Homo sapiens: one gene and its partners. The protein of the gene in region 3 interacts with the protein of the main gene of each other region in a pairwise test. Each region holds a gene or a part of one and is shown on either strand. Other genes may lie near its edges.

Evidence for each region.
Region 1: the proteins of EIF5 (region 3) and EIF1AX interact in a two-hybrid assay, tested with the Homo sapiens proteins (one study listed by IntAct).
Region 2: the proteins of EIF5 (region 3) and DUSP12 interact in binary tests that used the Homo sapiens proteins (3 or more experiments, as listed by UniProt).

The regions. Positions count from the first base shown.
Region 1 is NC_000023.11:20,124,794-20,131,911, forward strand, and holds part of EIF1AX (eukaryotic translation initiation factor 1A, X-chromosomal), read right to left. Parts: intron 5,815-7,118; coding exon 5,723-5,814; intron 3,519-5,722; coding exon 3,513-3,518; 3' UTR 1-3,512. UniProt on the Homo sapiens protein: Component of the 43S pre-initiation complex (43S PIC), which binds to the mRNA cap-proximal region, scans mRNA 5'-untranslated region, and locates the initiation codon. This protein enhances formation of the cap-proximal complex.
Region 2 is NC_000001.11:161,752,731-161,757,801, reverse strand, and holds the end of DUSP12 (dual specificity protein phosphatase 12), read right to left. Parts: intron 4,728-5,071; coding exon 4,541-4,727; intron 1,017-4,540; coding exon 855-1,016; 3' UTR 564-854; downstream 1-563. UniProt on the Homo sapiens protein: Dual specificity phosphatase; can dephosphorylate both phosphotyrosine and phosphoserine or phosphothreonine residues. Can dephosphorylate glucokinase (in vitro).
Region 3 is NC_000014.9:103,329,399-103,337,285, reverse strand, and holds the start of EIF5 (eukaryotic translation initiation factor 5), read right to left. Parts: upstream 3,050-7,887; 5' UTR 3,026-3,049; exon of another isoform or gene 2,898-3,025; 5' UTR 2,689-2,897; exon of another isoform or gene 2,626-2,688; intron 2,399-2,625; exon of another isoform or gene 2,101-2,398; intron 1,634-2,100; 5' UTR 1,426-1,633; coding exon 1,354-1,425; intron 1,251-1,353; coding exon 1,169-1,250; intron 610-1,168; coding exon 437-609; intron 171-436; coding exon 59-170; intron 1-58.

The DNA of each region.
Region 1 (7,118 bases), on a different chromosome or scaffold from region 3:
CTTATGCCAAATTAAATGAGTTTGGTAGCAATTTCAAATACTATGTTGACATGAATGTACAAATATACATTCTACGTGTTCCTTCTATTGTACGAATCAAAGACTGCACGCAAAAGAAATGGGAAATACAGAATACAGAAGACATGCACCTTCTATCTTACATAGTACTGGATATCAAGTGAAAAGAGCAGACACTGATCTAAGTACATTACATGTATAAACATCTAAATTATCAATCCTCCCAACAATTCTGCATGACAGGTACTGTTTTCATCATCCCCATCTTAGAGGTGAAGAACCTGAAGCTGAGACAAGCAGGAGAATGTGCCAGTGGTCACCTGCAGGTAGAGGGCCAAGTAAGGGTGGGGGCAAAGGCCCTTTGACCCCAGGATCCATGCTCTCCCCTCTCCAGTACACTGCCTCACAAGTACCTAGCAACTTGCAGGGCTAGGAGGGGGGAATAAGAGAGGACAAAGTCCAATACATTCTCCAAATTGCTCAGTTCATTCTATACCTGAGAGTCTTGTGTCTTTTCACATTTTGCTCTTTTCTGAATAGGAAGAAAAAAAGCAAAGATAAAAAGGATGGTAGTTTAGGGTAAACCAAAAACACAAAGCAGTGTGCAAAAGTTCATGGGAGTCCAAAGAGTATAAATAAAACTTACCCTTACGAAGTAGAATAAAGATAAGCATTTCATACCAATACAAATCATTTTCATCTTTATGACAGTCAGGTAACATCAAAAAAACCTTGCTTTCATTCTGATACTTTAGCTGTCAATCCAGTCAATACCGGTTGTTGTTAAGTCTGTATACAAGTAAAGTATAAATCTAGCTATTTTACTCAAAACATGCTTTTACCTATTTGATTACTCAGAGTTACTCTGAAATCAATAATGACAGCAGTTTATACCTATGGAAGATGTTACTGAACATCATAATCTAATATTTACATTAGATGAGATTAAGTTAAATTACAAGTCACAAAGAGTTTGTAAGCAAACATTTATAGCCATGATTCCACAGATGTGGTGAGTAAACCAACAGCCATTCCTAAATAAAATACAAGAATTTCCATCATGCATAGTTTACAGGCTTGGTAAGAAGCGGTCTCTTTAGGGGCCAGATGCTTAAGAAATATTCAACAAACAATGAAATCTTGGCTTTTTTTTTTTTTTACACAAATGTTTGGTTATTTAGCCACACTAGTGATAAAACATATTCATATTCTAACTGCAAGTGGAATAAACATTGCAACAAAAATGCAACCCAATCAAAATCATTAGTAATAACTATTACTCCCTCTTAGCAGTAAGAACCATTATTCTTGGATTTCAAACATTTTATTTTCTGTGCATAGCTTATAGCACTGTATTATAGGAATCAGAGTGTATAAGCAAAAAAATGAAAAATAAAACTTCTTGGAGACCATTTCCATTATTTATGATTAAATCAATGAAACTATACAATTTCCACATTAAATACAAATTAGTAGAAGAATTCCTCCAAGTAGTATTGCATATAAGCTACAACTTTACCCCAACTATTTTAATCACTATGATTCGAGATTTCCTAGGATTTAACAGCCCAAGATTGGGCTGTTACTACCTCAGCAAGAACAATCACCAGTAAATACATGAACTGGGGTTATAGCTGAATTTTTAGAAACTCTCCAGACAAACCACGTGTTAGAGGAGGTAAGTAGAAAAACTAATGTTTGAGCTGTGCTATTCCTACCAGGAACTATATCAAATATGCAAAGTTCAAACATTCTTAGTAAAATAATATGAAAGGATCTATATATACTGTAAATTTAGCAAAAACACTTTTATGTACAGAAGCCTAAATATCTTAGGAGGTTTAGAATACCAATGAAGAGAATTGTTAATTCTTCAAGGCTGGTTTCTTATGAGGATTAAAAACCAGCCCTTAGTCTCAGATGCATTCCACCTAGATGTGTTCACGAACTCCATAGAATAAGAAATATAAACCATGAATACGTACTCTTAATTTCCATTCTTCAACTTAATGTTCTATAGTACTTCAGATTTTTAAATCCAGAGTTTGGTGTACACTTAGGAAATTATAGTAAGAGTAGATTAGAGAAGATTTGCTTGTTTTCCTTTTGAAGCCATGTGAAGGTTTATTACCCTGTGTATTTTCATCACTGAAAAGTTCCCCGGTGACTAATAAAATAAAAGTGTCACAAGCTACATGATGGATCTCTTCTTTTAATGTTGCATAGAGTTTCAGTTTGGCTAGTGAGGGCTAACTAGCTCAGCCCTAGTTTCATTTTATTAGAGTTGACCACTAAAAACTAAATAAGGAAGTTACCAGTAAAGCTAATTCCCAATACAAGCAAAAAACAAAAACAAAAAACAAAAACAAAACCATTCACATAATAAAATATATCCTTAACACAAAATAAGGGTATAACATATTCTGCAGCATGACATTTTATTTTATTTCTCAGCTGTAGCTTTTTCATTCAGAAACTGGAGACCATCTTTTCACTGAGTTGTTATTCCTTCCTCTTCCCTTAGCTTAGGGATATGTTGAAAAAGGCTTTTCAACAAGTATTTTATTTTTTACAAGTTGCTATGAAATTAAAATTTATATATATATCTTAAGTGTTTATAAAGCACTCAAAATTGTAGCTTACATGTATATGACTTCTGAAAATAAAAATCACACTTCTAACATAATCTTTCTGCTCTGCAAAAATATTCTACATACATGCATATGATCAAAACAATCTTTTCATGTTTGGGGTATTTCTTACACATAGTAAAAGAAAAGTCAACAATTGTATCAGTACTTCCCCTGTTAAGATAACTGAGTGCCACCTAGTGTTCAATTTCTGCAACTACTAAGCTTACAAATTCAATACTGCTATTAAAACCCAGGTTCTGAAAACGGCATTTTGGAAATCTTTTTTTTTTTTTTTATGTTTACGGTGGCAAAATACGACTATGAAAAGAACATGATATCAAAATCAGTATAAAAATAGCCACAGGCTACTTAAATATGACAAACAGACTTATTTTTTTTCTTCAACTGCAGACTTCTGCCTCCCTCAAATTGTATCAAAATCTCAAGGGAATATCTAGGTAACTGGAATATACACAATGACTCTATACAATCAAGAGGCCAGGGCTTAATCAGATTCCGTGAGGACAAGGCAAATGATTTCTTCAAAACACCCATTTTCTTACTGGAAGTGGTAGGAAAAGCAGCAATGCATGGTTTTTTTTTTTTTTTGTAATTAGTAGACATGGTCTTCTACCCATAAGCTCCATTACATTAAAAGAACAAAGTGGGCTTAACATCTCACTTAAGATAATTCAGCATTATTATCAGTTTTAAAAAAACCAAAAATATCTTAGAAACAAATCAGTCTGCTTTAACAAATTGCATTCATGCTAATGAAATTTTAATCTTCTTTGTCATGATCAAAATCCAAATTGTAGGACAATCTTCAGAAAAGATGGAATGTAAAATGTTGAGTTCAATTTAGATCTGGAAGGGAAAAGAACATCAGATGAAAGGAAAAAGAATTCTTATATTCCAACAGTCTACTCCATATATAAGGGAGACTTTCACCTCCTTAGGCTATGTGAGAAACAAATCCAGTTTGAAGAAGAAATTCCTATAATTCTGGCCTGCTATAAGTAAATCGTGATGATCTCCTTTGTAATGTTACATGTTATGCAAAATATTCTTAATAAAATTTACTGTCTCCTTCCTTTAATGCTTGTAATTTGAGATTTTTGTATCTCATGGATGGGAGCAGACACAGGAAGCATGATATGATTGATCCCGTTCAGTGTGATACTGACCTAATTCTCCTGAGTCAATCTGGTTATAGTTAAAACATCTATAAACCACCTGGAGAAATGTCTCAAAGAGTAGGGTTCTCAGGTGACAGAGCCAACTTTTACAAAATGTTCAAGAGAACTCCTTTAATAATCACTCTTTACCATCCCTTTTCCAGCCAGCCAGCTGGGTCCAGTTCTGAGGAGGCGTTGGCCCAGATCCAGAAATTTTTACTGAGAAAATCTTGACCACGCCTAGATTCTCAACCCATTATCTTGGTGCATGCGGCTTCATATCCATGCATGTTCTCTGGTTAGGTTCCTTAATTTTTTTTTTTTTTTAAAGAGGCCTTCTACCCCTGCTCAGATGTCAAAATGTTTGGGTTGGCGCTTAATCCACATGTCAGCTGCAAGCTCTTATTTACCAAAGAATAGAATTGTTAATTCTATTGTCAAAATATTAGTAACAGTTTAGTCGTAAGACTCCTCTTGGCTCAGGGTCTCCAAAATTAAGAAAATAACAGAACAACATGTTTATTTCTCACTTCCTATTTTTGTGTACATGTTAAAATGTCTATAATATTAGTAATTTAACTCACAGTGTGAGTATTCTTGGTCAGGAACAACTGCTCTAGGTATTCCGAAATTCCATCTTTGCATCAAATTTAACGTTATTATGTTATTTATGTAGAGACAAAGTCTGGCTATGTTACCCAGGCTGGTCTTGAACTCCTGGGCTCAGGTGATCCTCCCCTATCAGTCTCCTGAGTAGCTGGGACTATGGGTGCATACCACCACATCTGACTTATTATTGTTTTTGGGTTGAAATACACAGGTGGTTTCTGAACTACATTTTAGTTAAAAGAGGTTTGAAAAGAAGAGCCCAAAACAGATTTAAGAGTAACACCCTAATCACTAAATAAATTTATACTGCCAAAAGATTAAGTTTGAATTTCATTCAATTACAGTAACAGCAGAAGTGCAGTAAAGCATTTACACTTATGGGCATTACTACTTTATTATTAGGAAAGACAATCCATTTTCCTCAAAATAAACATACCAACTGCAAACCAAGAGTTTGCCAACAGTACACACCCAACAGCTAAAAATACCATAATTGGCAATAGGCTTCCATTTTGACAAGGCTTTCAGTGTATGTTGTAATTCCAATGCTTCATATCAAGCTGGTTCAAACAAGATTCTTTCAACACACTAATATTTCAATTAAAAAGGCATGTTCCTTTGATAAGATCTATTTTTCAACTGTCCACTAAATTTCTTAATGGCTATCTCTTTAGAGACTCTTAATTAAACAAGTTATGATTAGAGTGGCTGGCGTTAATATTGCCAATGCAAACACTGACCTTTTCAGGAAGAGAAATTGAAGAGGGTTATAAGAATTCTCAAAATAGGGCCGGGCATGGTGGCTCACGCCTGCAACCCCAGCACTTTGGGAGGCCGAGGAGGGCAGATCACCGGAGGTCAGGAGTTCGAGACCAGCCTGGCCAACGTGGTGAAACCTCGTCTCTACTAAAAATACAAAAAATTAGCCAGGCGTGGTGGCACGCGCCTGTAGTCCCAGCTATTCAGGAGGCTGAGGCAGGAGAATCGCTTGAACCCAGGAGGCAGAGATTGCAGTGAGCTGAGATTGTACCACTGCACTCCAGCCTGGGTGACAGAACAAAACTCCATCACAAAAAAAAAAAAAAAAAAAAAAAAAAAAAGAATTCTCAAAATATAAACAGTTTGACCAGGTGTCTTCTAAATAATATTATTTAATTCAGACAATTCTCAAAATACAACCTTATTTAAGTGTCCCATGTTCTTAAAATTAATGGATGTTAGGGGAAAGTTGGTTTCTCCATGGATAATAACAAAAATTGGAAAACACAAGGTACATCTACTTACGTCATCAATATCTTCATCATCATCTCCAATGTCATCAAACTGAATTTCATCATCATCTCCAGGACCAAATGTATCAGTTTCATTGATTTTAGCTAAGGACACAGTAAGAAATACTCATAAGTCAGCACTGTAATTTACTCAAAGTTTCATCATAAGAGCATTCCTTTTATATAAGACAATAACTATAAAGAATATTTTATGAAAAAAAATTCCTGCAGTGTCACTGCTAAGTCAAGATGGGAGTATCTGTGTTACCATTTTCTTTTGTTTGCAAAGGTATTTTTAGTAAGGAAGGCCCTAATTACACTAATTCTGAAGCTATTATAACTTTCAGGTATACTTCTCAACATACAAGGAAATATGGTAACAACGTATTTCCTTAAGAATAGCTGGTTCACTAATCATCAGATAGACTCATCAATCAGAAAGATCTGGTCAAATCATGATTACCCCTAAGCAATGAAAATGAACCAGGAAGCGCTAGTCCTATTCCTATATACATTAACATTTCTTAGATCAGAAATGCTAAGTAATTTCAGCAGGACTTTCATGCTTAAGTAAAATATAACAAAATTATGTTTTTTCTTAAGATACAACAGAGCCAAAAATAATAACTGCCAAGTGAAAATGCAGGCCTACAGAACAGTATGTCAAGTACATTTCCCCTTTGATGAGGTTATAAGGGACTTATTTTTAGGTTTTCTGCGTTAAGAATTCATTACTTTTGTATTTGGAAGGGTGAAAACCAAGAAATGTTGCTTTTAAAAAATCCTATGGGATACTATTATACAACGATAAAATGGAAATATAACTTTTTAATAAAAATCAGTAATGAGGCCGGGCATGGTGGTTCACGCCTGAAATCCGAGCACTTTGGTAGGCAGAGGTGGGTGGATCATCTGAGGTCAGGAGTTTGAGACTAGCCTGACCAACATGGTGAAACCCCGTCTCTACTAAAACTACAAAATTAGCCGGGCATGGTGGTGCATGCCTGTAATCTCAGCTGCTTTGGAGGCTGAGAATCGCTTGAACCTGGGAGGCAGAGGTTGCAGTGAGCCAAGACTGCACCACTGCACTCCAGCCTGGGCAAAAGAGTGAGACTCCATTTCAAAACAAACAAACAAAATCAGTAACTGTACCTAATTACTTGCCCTTGCTTCATGGTTTTTTTTTTTTTTTTTTTTTAATTTTTTTTGAGACAAGGTCTCACTTTGTCACTCAGGCTCGAGTATAGTGGCATGATCATAGGTCACTGCATCCTTGAACTCTTGGACTCAAGCAATCCTCCCGTCTTGGCCTCCCAAGTAGCTGAGACTACAGGCATGTGCCACCATGCCCGGCTGACTTGCACTTCGTGTTTAACCCATATGCGCACTGACAGTCTCTCGAGGAAGGA
Region 2 (5,071 bases), on a different chromosome or scaffold from region 3:
CTTGGCCTCCCAAAGTGCTGGGATCATAGGCATAAGCCACTGCACCTGGCCTTTATTAGTTAATTCTGATTCTTGTAAATGTTCAAATATCTAATTAGGTCCAATTGTAATTATTAATAATGAGTAAAATAATTCTAGTTTCTATACATCAGGTTAAAAAACTAATCTGGACGTATTACCTTTTCCAATACTCACATATTGGGCTACAAAATGACTTGATATATAGTAACTCTACATTTGTTTTCTTCATCATTAGAAACACATCTAACATTTATGTATTTCTTTATGTAGATCACTTCAAAAGGGATCTCAAACACTTTTCTAAAAATATAGATAATTGGGATTACTGAACAGTAATAGGAAAATTGCCTTTTAATCAGCGTTTTACTAATGGCCTTTCCATTTCCAAGAAAAAAATCCAGACATGTATGGGTTTACTAATGTCCCTTAAAAGAAAGAAAGTGAAATAATTCCAAAATATGTCCAAACAAATCTGCTTTATGTGTCTGGAAATAAAAGAATACCCATTTAAATATAATAGTTTCAAATTTTTGTACATAATTTTGTCTATACAGACCTTAAGATCATATAACATTCCAACAATCAAAACTTTTAAAAATATATGAAACACAGACAGTATCTGGTTATAAAAGATTTTAATATCAAATAAAATGTACATGATCAAAAGGCTTTGATTGCCATGTAAAGCATAGTTTCCAGGTTACATCAAGTGATTTTATCTTCTCCCATTTCAAATGAAATGTTGAAAGCACAAACAATCTGCCATGAATGATAAGAAGCAAAGGCAGCACATATCATCTGCAAGTTTCTTCCCAAGCTATAAAATATCATGTTCATATTTTTCCTGTTTGTGATCCCAAAACAGGCAATATTTTCATTTCATCCACTCTATTCTTATGTATTTGAAAAGCAGGTGTTATCCACCTACCACAAGAGCACTGTTCACCATACCAGTTGAAGGAACCCAACTTGGCACTGCATTTTGGGCAAAGAAGCTGAAATAAAGCAAATGTGTTACTTTATTCATTCACTTTTATACAAAACAAATCATTATCTTTGGCAATCAATATAGGATATAAAAACAAGACACGATCCCCACGTTGAGTTTATAATCTAATCAGTGAGATAAAATGCATTGGAAATTTACTGTAATAGATAGTAGACTACAATTATCTCATAGGAAGAATGTTGTATTCAGGGAGCTTGAAGGGAGAAAAGTGAAGCTTGAGATTTGATTAAGGAAGGTTTCATGGATGTGGCATATATATATATATATATATATATATATATATATATAGCTTTTAAATCAGTTTGTAATTTAGGACTTCAAATGAAAATGATCACGGCTAAAGTATAGAAAAGCATGTTAGGATTTTCATGCTGTATTACTAACTGTGTGTATTGACAGCATATAAGTCAGATTCTTAGCTATTTAAAGACAAACTGATATTCCAGGAAAATAGGTAAATCAAAAAAGCCTAATAAGGCAACTGCATTTTCTTCTAATGTAGTTAGTTATAGCATTAATTTTTATGTTTAGCTCTTTGATTTATGCATGGTATAAGGTAAGAGTTTTTATTTTTAATCTTGAGCTATAGAAAACTAGACATAAAACTCAGAAGCAGGCTGAGTGTGGTGGCTCATACCTGTAATTCCCAGCACTTTGGGAGGCCAAGGCGGGCAGATCACCTGAGGTCAGGAGTTTGAGACCAGCCTGGTCAACATGGTGAAACCCCGTCTCTACTAAAAACACAAAAATTAGTTGGGCATGGTGGCGGATGCCTGTAATCACAGCTACCTGGGAGGCTGAAGCAGGAGAATATTTGAACCCAGAAGGCGGAGGTTGCAGTGAGCCAAGATCACACCACTGCACTCCAGCCTGGGCAACAGAGCAAGACTCCGTCTCAAAAAAAAGAAATTCAGAAGCCATAAATAAAAAAACTAACAAATTTTATTATGTAAATATCCTTCATTTTAATATGACAAAACATAAAAAATCTGATAAGCAATAGACTGAAGAAAATAGTTGCAATATATTAGATGAACTATTAACATCTAGAATATATAGAGGTCCTACAAATGAGTAAGAAAGAGACAAAACCCATAGGCAAATGGGCCTAGGAATATGAAAGCAATTTATAGAAAAGAAAACAGTAAATGGCTGGTAAATATATAAAGATGGTGGTTGATGACTATTTTCATAAAATTCCAATTAAACATTTTAGGATTAACATTTTTTACCCCACAGACTGACAAAATGTTACCAGTTTTATAGTATCTATTATGTCAAGGATATGGAGTAACGGGTACATGCATTCAGTTACTGAAAACCAAATTTGTATGGGCATTTTGAATATCAGCCTGGAATATCACTAATATTTAAAATACATTCTTCGAGCCAGGAATTCCACTTCTAGGTACATATTCTACAGAAAAAAATCAAATATGTATACAAATAAGTATGCACAGGATTTAGAATCTTACATAAAAATGTATTTAACTTGGCTGGAGTGTGTGTGTGTGTTTCCCAGGTTAAGTAAAATTAGAAAGCCAGAATCACAAGCCACAAAAAAGAAAAACTGATAAATTAGATACCATCAAAATTAAAATCTCTAACTGCTACAAATAATACCATCAAGAATGGGAATTGCAGCTGGGCATGGTGGCTCACGCCTGTAATCCCAGCACTTTGGGAGGCTGAGGCAGGTGGATTACCTGAGGTCAGGAGTTCGAGACCAGCCTGACCAACATGGAAAAACCCCGTCTCTACTAAAAATACAAAATTAGCCAGGCGTGGTGGCGCATCCCTGTAATCCCAGCTACTCAGGAGGCTGAAGCAGGAGAATCACTTGAACCCGGGAGGCAGAGGTTGTGGTGAGCCAAGATTGTGCCATTGTACTCCAGCCTGGGCAACAAGAGTGAAACTCCGTCTCAAAAAAAAAGAATGGGAAGAGTGGGAATGTGAATTGTGATGTGATACGGTTTGGTTCTGTGTCCCCATCCAAATCTCATCTCAAATTGTAATCCCCAAGTGTGGAAGAAGAGAGGTGATTGGATCATGGAGGCAGATACCCCCATGCTGTTCTCGTGATAGTGAATGAGCACTCATAAGATCTGATGGTTTTATAAGTGTTTGACAGTTCCTCCTTCACATATGCTTCTCTCTCCTGCCGCCTTGTGAAGAAGTGGCCTGCTTTCCCTTCTGCCATGATAATAAGTTTCCTGAGGCCTCCCCAACCATGCAGAACCATGAGTCAATTAAACCTCCTTCCTTTATAAATTACCCAGTCTCACGTACTATCTTTATGGCAGTGTGAAAATAGACTAATACACGATGGTTGCAAAAACCACTGTGAATACACTTTAAAAGCCACTGAACTATACACCTTAAATAGGTAAATTGCATGTTATGTGAATTATACTATAATAAGGCTGTTTTTTTTAAAAAAAGCAGCATTATCCGAAAATGTGAGTTTGATTATATGGTACCACTTTCTAGGCAAGACACTACTCATAAACAGTTTCCTCATGCACAACACGTGAATATAACTGCTCTACCTATTTTATAAAGCTATGGCATTCTTCAAATGGTATAATACAGTGAAAGGGTTTCATAAACTAGCCACTATACAAACTTTTATACAAACCATACAAACTTTCAAAATCATTATTAAGATGATTATTATAGAATACCTTCACATTAATATCAAGTAAACCTAAAGGAGAAATGTGGCTGTCATGGCACACTCCAACCAAGTTAAACACTTTTTTATGTAAAATGTCACATGAACTGCATTCTTTTTTTATTTCCCTACCCACTGGTTACAGGAGCAATAGGATGAGCTGCATTATTTAACTGGAAATGAAAAAGAATCTCATAGCAAAACAAACTAAATTTCACTCTCCTAAAAGATAAGAAAAAAGAGAAAGACACATACAGGAAGCCAACAGAGAAAAAGAAAGACAGAATTTTTAACCTAATTTTAAAATCCCTGATTTACCCTATCTTGTTACAAAGTTCAAATTTTGTTTAATACATTTTTTCTTTTCTTTTTTTCTTATTAAAAATTTTTTACTTTCTTTTATAGAGATGAGGTCTCACTATATTGCCCAAGCTGGTCTCGAAACCCTGGGCTCAAGTGATCCTCCCGCCTCAGCCTCCCAAAGTGCTCAGATTACAGGCATGAGCTAATGAGGCAAGAGTGCCCAGCCAATATATTCTAATTAGTTTAAAAATAAATGTTAGTCTTATATTTGAAAAAAATATAAATAGCCTTAAAGGAAATTTATTAACTTAGACCAGGGCTCTCAACCAGAAGTAGTTCACTATGTTGGATCAGCTGGTTTTTGAAAAATATTTTATTTTTGATAGTCTTATCTACACTAGAAAGATATAATCTTCAGAAATAAAGAAATTAAGAAATGGAGCAAAACACTAGTTAAAATAGAGCTTAAAATGCAAGAAGGAATAAAATATAGATCATAAAATAAAATTGTAGAAAATAAAATGTGTTCTCACCTGTCCATCCATCACTCCCAACAAAGCAGATTCCATCCACTGTACAGGTTCAATGAAATAAGATGTACATTGAGCTTGCCTCCCTGTGGTAAGCATGGAAGATGGTGTCATTCTCTTGTGGGCAAAGGCTATAGGTCCACTTCCTTCACGGTGATCCAGAATACTAGAACTTCGAAATAATGATCGCCTGCAACCCCCAAACAAACAAAAGCATTAATGACTTCCAAAAGGATGAAAACATGGATGAAATGTGCGGTATTTCTTTTTTTTTTGAGACAGAGTCTCACTCTGTCGCCCATGCTAGAGTGCAGTGGCGTGATCATGGCTCACTGCAACCTCCGCCTCCTGGGTTCAACCAATTCTCCTGCCTCAGCCTCCTGAGTAGCTGGGATTACAGGCACCAGCCACCATGCCCAACTAATTTTTGTATTTTTAATAGAGACGGGGTTTCACCATGTTGGCCAGGCTGGTCTCAAATTCCCAATCTCAGGTGATCTGCCTGCCTCGGCCTCCCAAAGTGCTGGGGTTACA
Region 3 (7,887 bases):
GTTCCCAACAGTTAGTAACTTATCTTAGGATCTTAGGAGTTCATCATGGAAGACTCACCAGGTGGGTTTTTGAGAATGAATGTGCAGAGTTTATGATGTGTGTCAAGCATGCCTCGATAGCCACAGGCTTTACAAGAATTACCTATTGTTTGCTTCTTTGGATTGACATGCTGCCAAAAAAATAACAAATGTTATCCATAATATAACATGAAAATATCTAATCAGAGGACATCTAAACCACAGACAGCTTCACATGCAAAGAAAACTTTTTTCACACAGTGACCTACTTTAAAAAAAAGAATGGAAATATCTCGAAAACTGGAGTTTTGTGTTTGATTTAAAATTACATTTGCTCTGCCTTCTCAGGAAGGTGACTTAGCGGTATCACAGAAGCAGGTATATGGCTTTTTCTTTCGACAACCACAAAAGCACTTACCAAATCTGTTTCAGGATTCTCACATTCAGGACAGAGAACAAATTTTTTAATGAATCCATCCAACATGTCTTGCAGCTTATTCGCCTCATGAGATCCATTGACAATGTAACGGTCATTCTTAACATCAAACTGGGTCTGTGCTCCCAGCTCACAACCAAAATATTTGGTGGGATCTATTTGAATGAAAAAGGAGTTTGGATCGTTACAGTTAACTAGATCTCTGGCTACTCACTCACATTTGTACGAACACCACTTTTTTTTTTTTTTTGAGACAAGAGTCTCACTCTGTCACCCAGGCTGGAGTGCAACGGCGTGGTCTCAGCTCACTGCAACCTCCGTTTCCGGGGTTCAAGCGATTCTCCCCCTTCAGCCTCCCAAGTAGCTGGGACTACAAGCGCATGCCACCACGCCTGGCTAATTTTTGTATTAGTAGTAGACTCAGGATTTCACTATGTTGGCTAGGCTGGTCTAGAACTCCTGACCTCGCGATCCGCTTGCCTCAGCCTTCCAAAGTGCTGGGGGTTACAGGTGTGAGCCAACGCGCCCAGCCATCCACTCTTTAAATGCGTTCCCCTGGTAGTTTTGTAAACTCATGGCAACCAATAAACCACGGTTCCTCACTTAACTTGTAAGGTAATTAGCTAGCATACAATTAGAACAAGTTTTGCAGCTCAAAGACTTTGAAGACTCTATCCATAATATGCCCTGTGGACTTTTCCAAGCTTTACTTACACGTTGGAGGCCGATTAAGCGCCTTTGCAACGTCAACCATGTTGACTATAACTGTCTTGATTCCATTGCCTTTGCCCTCAACCTAAAGGAAATAAGAATTTTAGTTGTGCAGTTTCCCCTGACAAATGCAAACTTCAAAATTCTACAAAAAGAGCTATCAACTAAATTGAAGAGCAGTTTATTACCTTGGCAATCAGACGGGGCATCTTGTAGCGATAGAACTGGTCTGACACGCTGCGGTTGACATTGACAGACATTTTGGCTTATTAGTGGCTTTATCAATAAGATGAAGAGATCTTTGATTGCAACTTTTTGGTATCTTCTGTCTGGAGAAGAAGGGATGACATAAACGACTGCAAGAGTTCTCGGTCTCTGACATGAAAAAATTTTCGCCACTGAGGCTGTAAGCTTCTTGCTTGTATGCTATGTTTCCCCAATACAGGTACCAATGGCTGCGCAACAGCTCTGAAAGAAAAAGGGAAAGAACACACAAAAATCCCCCCAGGTTTAACATCATCGCTGGATGGAAACGCCTCCTTTTTACATCCTAGTTATGCTTCTGCTTAACTCCACCTTAAAAAGCATCTGAGATCACATGCAAACAGCCATTCTCATGTAACACAGTACAATCTGCGGGAACATAAAAAGGCCTCCATTTCGACTAAGCTGTGACTGGTAGGGAAATGCCTGACAAGAAAACACAAGCTGTGCTGCCTCAGCCGCCGTGAGATTCCATCAGACCGAGGGCAATCAGCAGGTTTGCCTCTGCGGCCATCCTGGAAGTGCTGAAGAACGAACCCGAGCCCTCTCCGCCGCCCACCCCGCCTGGATAAGCAAACTTCTCAGGCACACCCCCGTTCGTCTTCATTTTTAAGGGCAACCTAGGGAACTGTTCTCTACAACTAATCGTTGCTTCGGCAACCATGGCTTACTTCAAAGCAGCACTTCCTTAAACGCAGCGCTCGCCCACAATTTGCCATTAAGCAAGAGAGCGCGAGCGAACGCCAGGCTCGCCCCGGCCTCCCTTTTCCTCGCTATTCAAATACTCGGTTAACCTTCGCCCTGGTCCCCATGGCTACCGCGCTCCGAGGCGTTTCCGCGGGGGCTGGCGAACCGGGCAGCTCCGCGAAGGAGGGGGGCGCGCGACCGGGGCGTCTGGCCCCATCCCCAGCGCGTCCCCCGAGAGCCGGCGGCCCCGGAGGGTGCACAGCCGGGAAGCGACACACGGCCGAGGGGTGCCGGGATCGGGCCGCCCCCGCCCCAGAGCGCGCGATGACTCACAAATGCAGCAGCTGAAGCCTGAGTCAGCCCGAGCGGCGGGCACGCGCGACGCGCTCCCGCCATGCCGGGGAGGGGGCGAGGCCGGGCCGGGGAGCGCGCGGGGAGGGGGCGGCCGGCGCCCGGGCCCGCGCCCGCCCGCCGTCCGCCCAAACTGCGCCACACGCCGCGGCGGGGTCACGCGGCGGCCGCCGCCATCTTGTGCGGCCGCCATCTCCTGGCCCGCCGCGCCCGCGACTCACCGTTTTCGTCAAATAAAGACATAAACCCAACGCTGCTCGCCCGGGACTGGGATGAAGTGAGGCGCGATATAAACCCGAGTCCGAGTCCGAGGAGGCGGAGGCGAAGCGCAGCGAGGAGCGGCCGGGCCAGGTGCCGCCGCCGAGCAGCGGGGAGGGGCTGTCCCAGCGACGTCCGCGGTCCACACCCGTCAGCGCCGGAGCTGGGCGACCTGGCGCGGAGAGACGGCGCCGTGAGCCGTGGGCGGTCGGGGAGTGCACCTTCCCCGCCAGCCAGCGGCCCGAGGGGTCGAGGGGGCGGGAAGCACCGGGCAGGGGGCCGCCCCTTCACCGGACTCACCTCTGGAATGTTCTCGCTCTGACTGAACAACGCCGCCGCCGCGCTCAAGCTACCCTCGGCCCCAGCGTCCGCCCCCCGCGTCAGGCCTCACTGCCCATTGGCTGGAGGCCTGCCACAGCTCGCTCGTCATTGGTTCGCTTGCGACGTCAATCGCATCTTTCCGCGCCCCTTCTGCTTCCTGAGGCTCAACTCGCGGCCTCGGCCCGCCTCCAGCCCCGGTCTCGCTTCCTTCCTCTCCCCTCCCCCCGCCTTTCCCAGAGGTCTTCGCGGCGCAGCCCTTGGGTCTCGCGAGACCCGGAGTGGCCCTGGTGGCGGGGCCGGGGTACCGGGGGCCGTTCTTTGTCGGTTTGGGCCTTGAGGGGGAGATGGTGGTTGGTCCCCTCCCTCGCCGGGTCTGGGACAGGCCGCGGCGTCATGGCGACTCCCGGGACGCAGGAGCCATCGTCCTCGAAACTGCTTTCGAGGCCGTGTTTTTGCGGCTGCCACCTTCGGGGAGAGGAACCCGACCGCGTTCTCCCCGCAGCGGGCGCTCATCTCCCTTTCCCGTTCTCCCGGGACGCCCGACTCCGGGCCTCGAGGAATGAGTTGTTTTTCCACCTTAAGCCCCAGGCCTGGGTCTTTCATCCCAGGGACGTCTTCTGTTTCGGACTCGGGGTGGATTGGCCGCTGGCGGAACGAGTCCGTGACTCGCCAGTGACCGCCCAGGGCGGTCGCGAGGCCGCGCCGCCTCGGTGTCGGCCCGCAACCCAGCCTGCGCGCTTAGCTCAGCGCGTCGCCTCCCGTTTTCGGAAGAGGAGGCCCTTAATTGGTTTGGAATCCTGGGGCCTCCTGAAGGCGCTTCGTGGTGGGTTCCCACCTTCTGGTGAAGGCCTCCCTGCTCTCCCAGGGTTGAAAAGCGCTATCCTTCGTGCTTCTCTTGTCACCTTTCTCCTAGTGGGCATCACGTCGAGTCCACCCCCTCTAGTTTATGACTTGTGAATTCTTTGATAAGCAAATCGTAGCCCAGAGCAGGCATTTATAATGAGATTCCAATGTATTCCGTTGAAAATTACTATTATTTAGGCCGGTCGCGGTGGCTCACGTCTGTAATCCCAGCACTTTGGGAGGCTGAGGTGGGCGGATCACCTGAGGTCGGGAATTTGAGACCAGCCTGGCCAATATGGTGGAACCCTGTCTCTACTAAAAATACAAAAAATTAGCTGGGCGTGGTGGCTCGCTTGTAATCCCAGCTACTCGGGAGGCTGAGGCAGGAGAATCCTTGAACCCGGGAGGCACAGGTTACAGTGAGCCGAGATCACACCACTGCACTCCAGCCTGGACAACAGAGCGAGACTGTCTCCAAAAAAAAAAAAAAAGAAAATTTTTATTATTTAGAGAGAGGCTCTCATATTTTAGTTCTGTTGAAACTCTCCCATTCTTTCTGAAACTTGGATTTTTTTTGTGAAAACTTGAGTCTTAAAAACACATCCATAGTTCACCCTGAAGTTTGAAGACCTCACTTGACTGATGGAGCGAGAGCCCCGCTAACCTGCACTCTGGTCTCTAAGGTGCAGTCATCGAGAAGTCCTGAGCGGCCGTGCAGGTTTCCCGATCTGGAAAAGAGAAATGTTGCTGAGGACAGGATGAGGTAGATAAGGGGCTGCCCTTTGTTTTGGACCAGTTGCATTTGCACTGAGGTTAGAATTGGCAGCTATGTTGATTTTTATATCAAAATCCAAGATCGTGCTTCCATAACTAAAAGCTTTATAAACAACTTAAAAATTGGCAGTGTTGGTAGGAAGAAATAAAGGCACAATCCAGAATTGAGAGGTGATTTGTGTCCTTTAGGGCAGGGACTTTTATAATCCCGCAGTGTGTACCTTGGTGTATAGTTGTTAAGCCAAGTGCACAGTGCCTTGTGAGTACCAGGGTTCCCATCAGACAAACTAGAAAAGGGGATCCCAGACATGCTGCTGCTGTTTCACTGTGGAGCATGACTTAGCAGTATTGAAACAGATCTGACTTTTTGCTTGGCAGCACAAAAATGATGTTATTTTAGAAACTCTGTTGGAAAGTATAGGCATGAAACTAGTCTGAGGTGAGAGGCCTGCCTTTTCAGAAAAGTTTTAATGAAACACGAAGTAATTAGCTTTTTTGTATGTTTAGTGGCACAATTTTTAATTTCGTTGAAGTTTGTAATAATTTTAACTGCTTTTTAATATGTGTACCACTCATTTGTATGCAACCATGGACAACTTAAAAAAATACTTTTGTGTTCTTTTTCTCCCTTTTATTTTTAGTTAATACATAATAACACATTTGTGGGATACAAAGTGATATTTCAGTACATGTATACAACGTGTAATGATCAAAGCACAGTAATCAGCATATCCATCACCTCAGATGTTTATCATTTCTTTGTGTTGGGAACATTCAGAATTCTCTCTTCTAGCTTTTTGAAAATATACAATAGATTGTTGTTAAGTATATTTACCTTGAAATACTACAGAGCACTAGAACTTATTGAGCTGCAATTTTGTATCAACCTCTCCCTCTCCTCTCCTCCCACTAGCCTTCCCAGCTTCTAATAAACCACAATTCAAGTCTCTACTTCCATGAACTCGAATTTTTTTTTAGCTCCCACATATGAATGAGAATATGTGGTATTTATCTTTCTGTGCCTGACTTATTTCACTTAATATGATACTGTCCTCCAGTCTCAGCCATGTTGCTTCAGATAAAAGGATTTCATTATTTTTTTATGACTGAATAGTGTTCCAGTATATGTAAAACTTTTTTTTTTTGAGACGGAGTCTCACTGTATCACCCAGGCTGGAGTGCAAGTGGTCTGATCTCAGTTCACTGCAACCTCCGGCTCCCAGGTTCAGGCGATTCTCCTGCCTCAGCCTCCCAAGTGGCTGGGACAACAGGTGCGTGCCATCAAGCCCGGCTAATTTTTTTTTTTTTTTTTTAGTAGAGACAGGGTTTCACTGTATTGGACAGGCTGGTCTGTCTTGAACTCCTGTGTGATCCACCTGCCTTGGCCTCCCAAAGTCCTGGGAGTACAGGCGTGAGCCACCACGCCCAGCCTATAACACATTTTCTTTATCCTTTTTTTTTTTTTTTAAATAATAAGATGGCGCGGGAGGGGTGGGGGGGGGGCTCACTATGTTGCCTAGGCTGGTCTCGAACTCCTGGCCTCAAGCAGTCCTCCCACCTCGGCATCCTGAAGTGCTGGGATTACAGGCATGAGCCACTGCAACCAGCCTGTCCATTCATTTGTTGGTGGACGCTTAAGTTGATTCCATATCTTTTGCTATTGTGACTGGCGCTGCAATAAACATGGGGGTGCAGATATCTCTTTGATAATATTGATTTGATTTCCTTTGGATAAATACCTAGTAGTGGGATTGCTGGATCATATGGAAGATCTATTTTTAGTTTTTTGAGAAACCTCCATGCTGTTTTCCCTAATGGCTGTACTAATTTACCTTCCCACCCACAGTGCATCAGAGTTCCCTTTTCTCTGCACCCTTGCCAGCATTTGCTATTTTTTGTCTTTGTGGTTTTGATTTGCGTTTCCCTGTTGATTAGTGACATTGAGCATTTTTTCATACATGTGTTGGCCACTTGTATGTCTTTCTTGGAGAAATATCTATTGAGATCGTTTGTCTATTTAAAAATCAGATTTATTTATTTTTTGTCACTGAGTTGTTTGAGTTCCTTGTTTATTCTGGATATTGGCACCTAAAAATTACTCTTAATCATACCATTTGTTAAATGCTTATCATATCCTAGGAGTTTTCTAAGTTCTTGGAATACATTATCTTATTTCCCAGGCCCTATGAGGAATTCGTATTTCCATTTTACAAATGAGCGAACCAAGGCTTAGTGGAAAAAAATTAAGCAACTTACCCAAATCATGTACCTAGTAAGTGGCAGAGCTAGGATTTAAAGACAGCTCTGTCTGATCCCAAAGCCTGTTCCCTTAAAAATTATGTGGCATGGCCTCTCCAGATAAATACAAAAACAAACAAAACTAGGCATTTTACATATGTAATCCCATTCTTTAATAATCATGTAAGGAGATGTTGTTATACCCATTTTACAGGTGAGGAAAGAGACTCAGGAAGGTTAAGCAATTTTCCCCAAAGTCGCCTCCCTAATAAATGATGGACAGCGTTTGAACTCCAGCTTGTGTGACGCCAAGCTCATTGCACAATTCCACTTCCCGTTTCTGGATCTCCACCTCATTTGGCTGCATTATTTTCCCCAGTCAGGTGCTCACAGTCCGTGCACTAATGGACACTTGGTGCTTGTCAAAACCTTGCTGAATGAGTGCATGAATTGCACACCTCAGTGCATGCCCTGATGACAGGAATAGCTGCTGGAAAGGTAGATTGGTAAACTGGCCTTCTGGTTGTTTACACATTGGCTGTGACTCTGTTGAATGTGAATGAGTGTCCCCTCCCTCCCACCCCCCACCAAGATCAACTCTGCATGGACTGAGAGCCTTGTGTTTCTGAGCTGTGAGCTCTCAAATGGACTCAGATATTGTACACTGTGAGGGGCAGTGGTCCTCCTCTGTGACACCCACCTCTCAACTTTTTTTTTTTCTTTTTTTTTTGAGATGGAGTCTCGCTCCGTTGCCAGGCTGGAATGCAATGGCACGATCTCAGCTCTTGCAACCTCTGCCTCCTGGGTTCAAGTGATTCGCCTGCCTCAGCCTCCTCAGTAGCTGGGATTACAGGCACCTGCTACCATGCCCGGCTAGTTTTGTATTTTTAGTAAGAGACGGGGTTTCTCCATGTTGGTCATGCTGGTCTCGAACTCCCAGCCTCAGGTGATCCGCCCATCTCGGCCTCCCAAAGTGCTGGGATTAC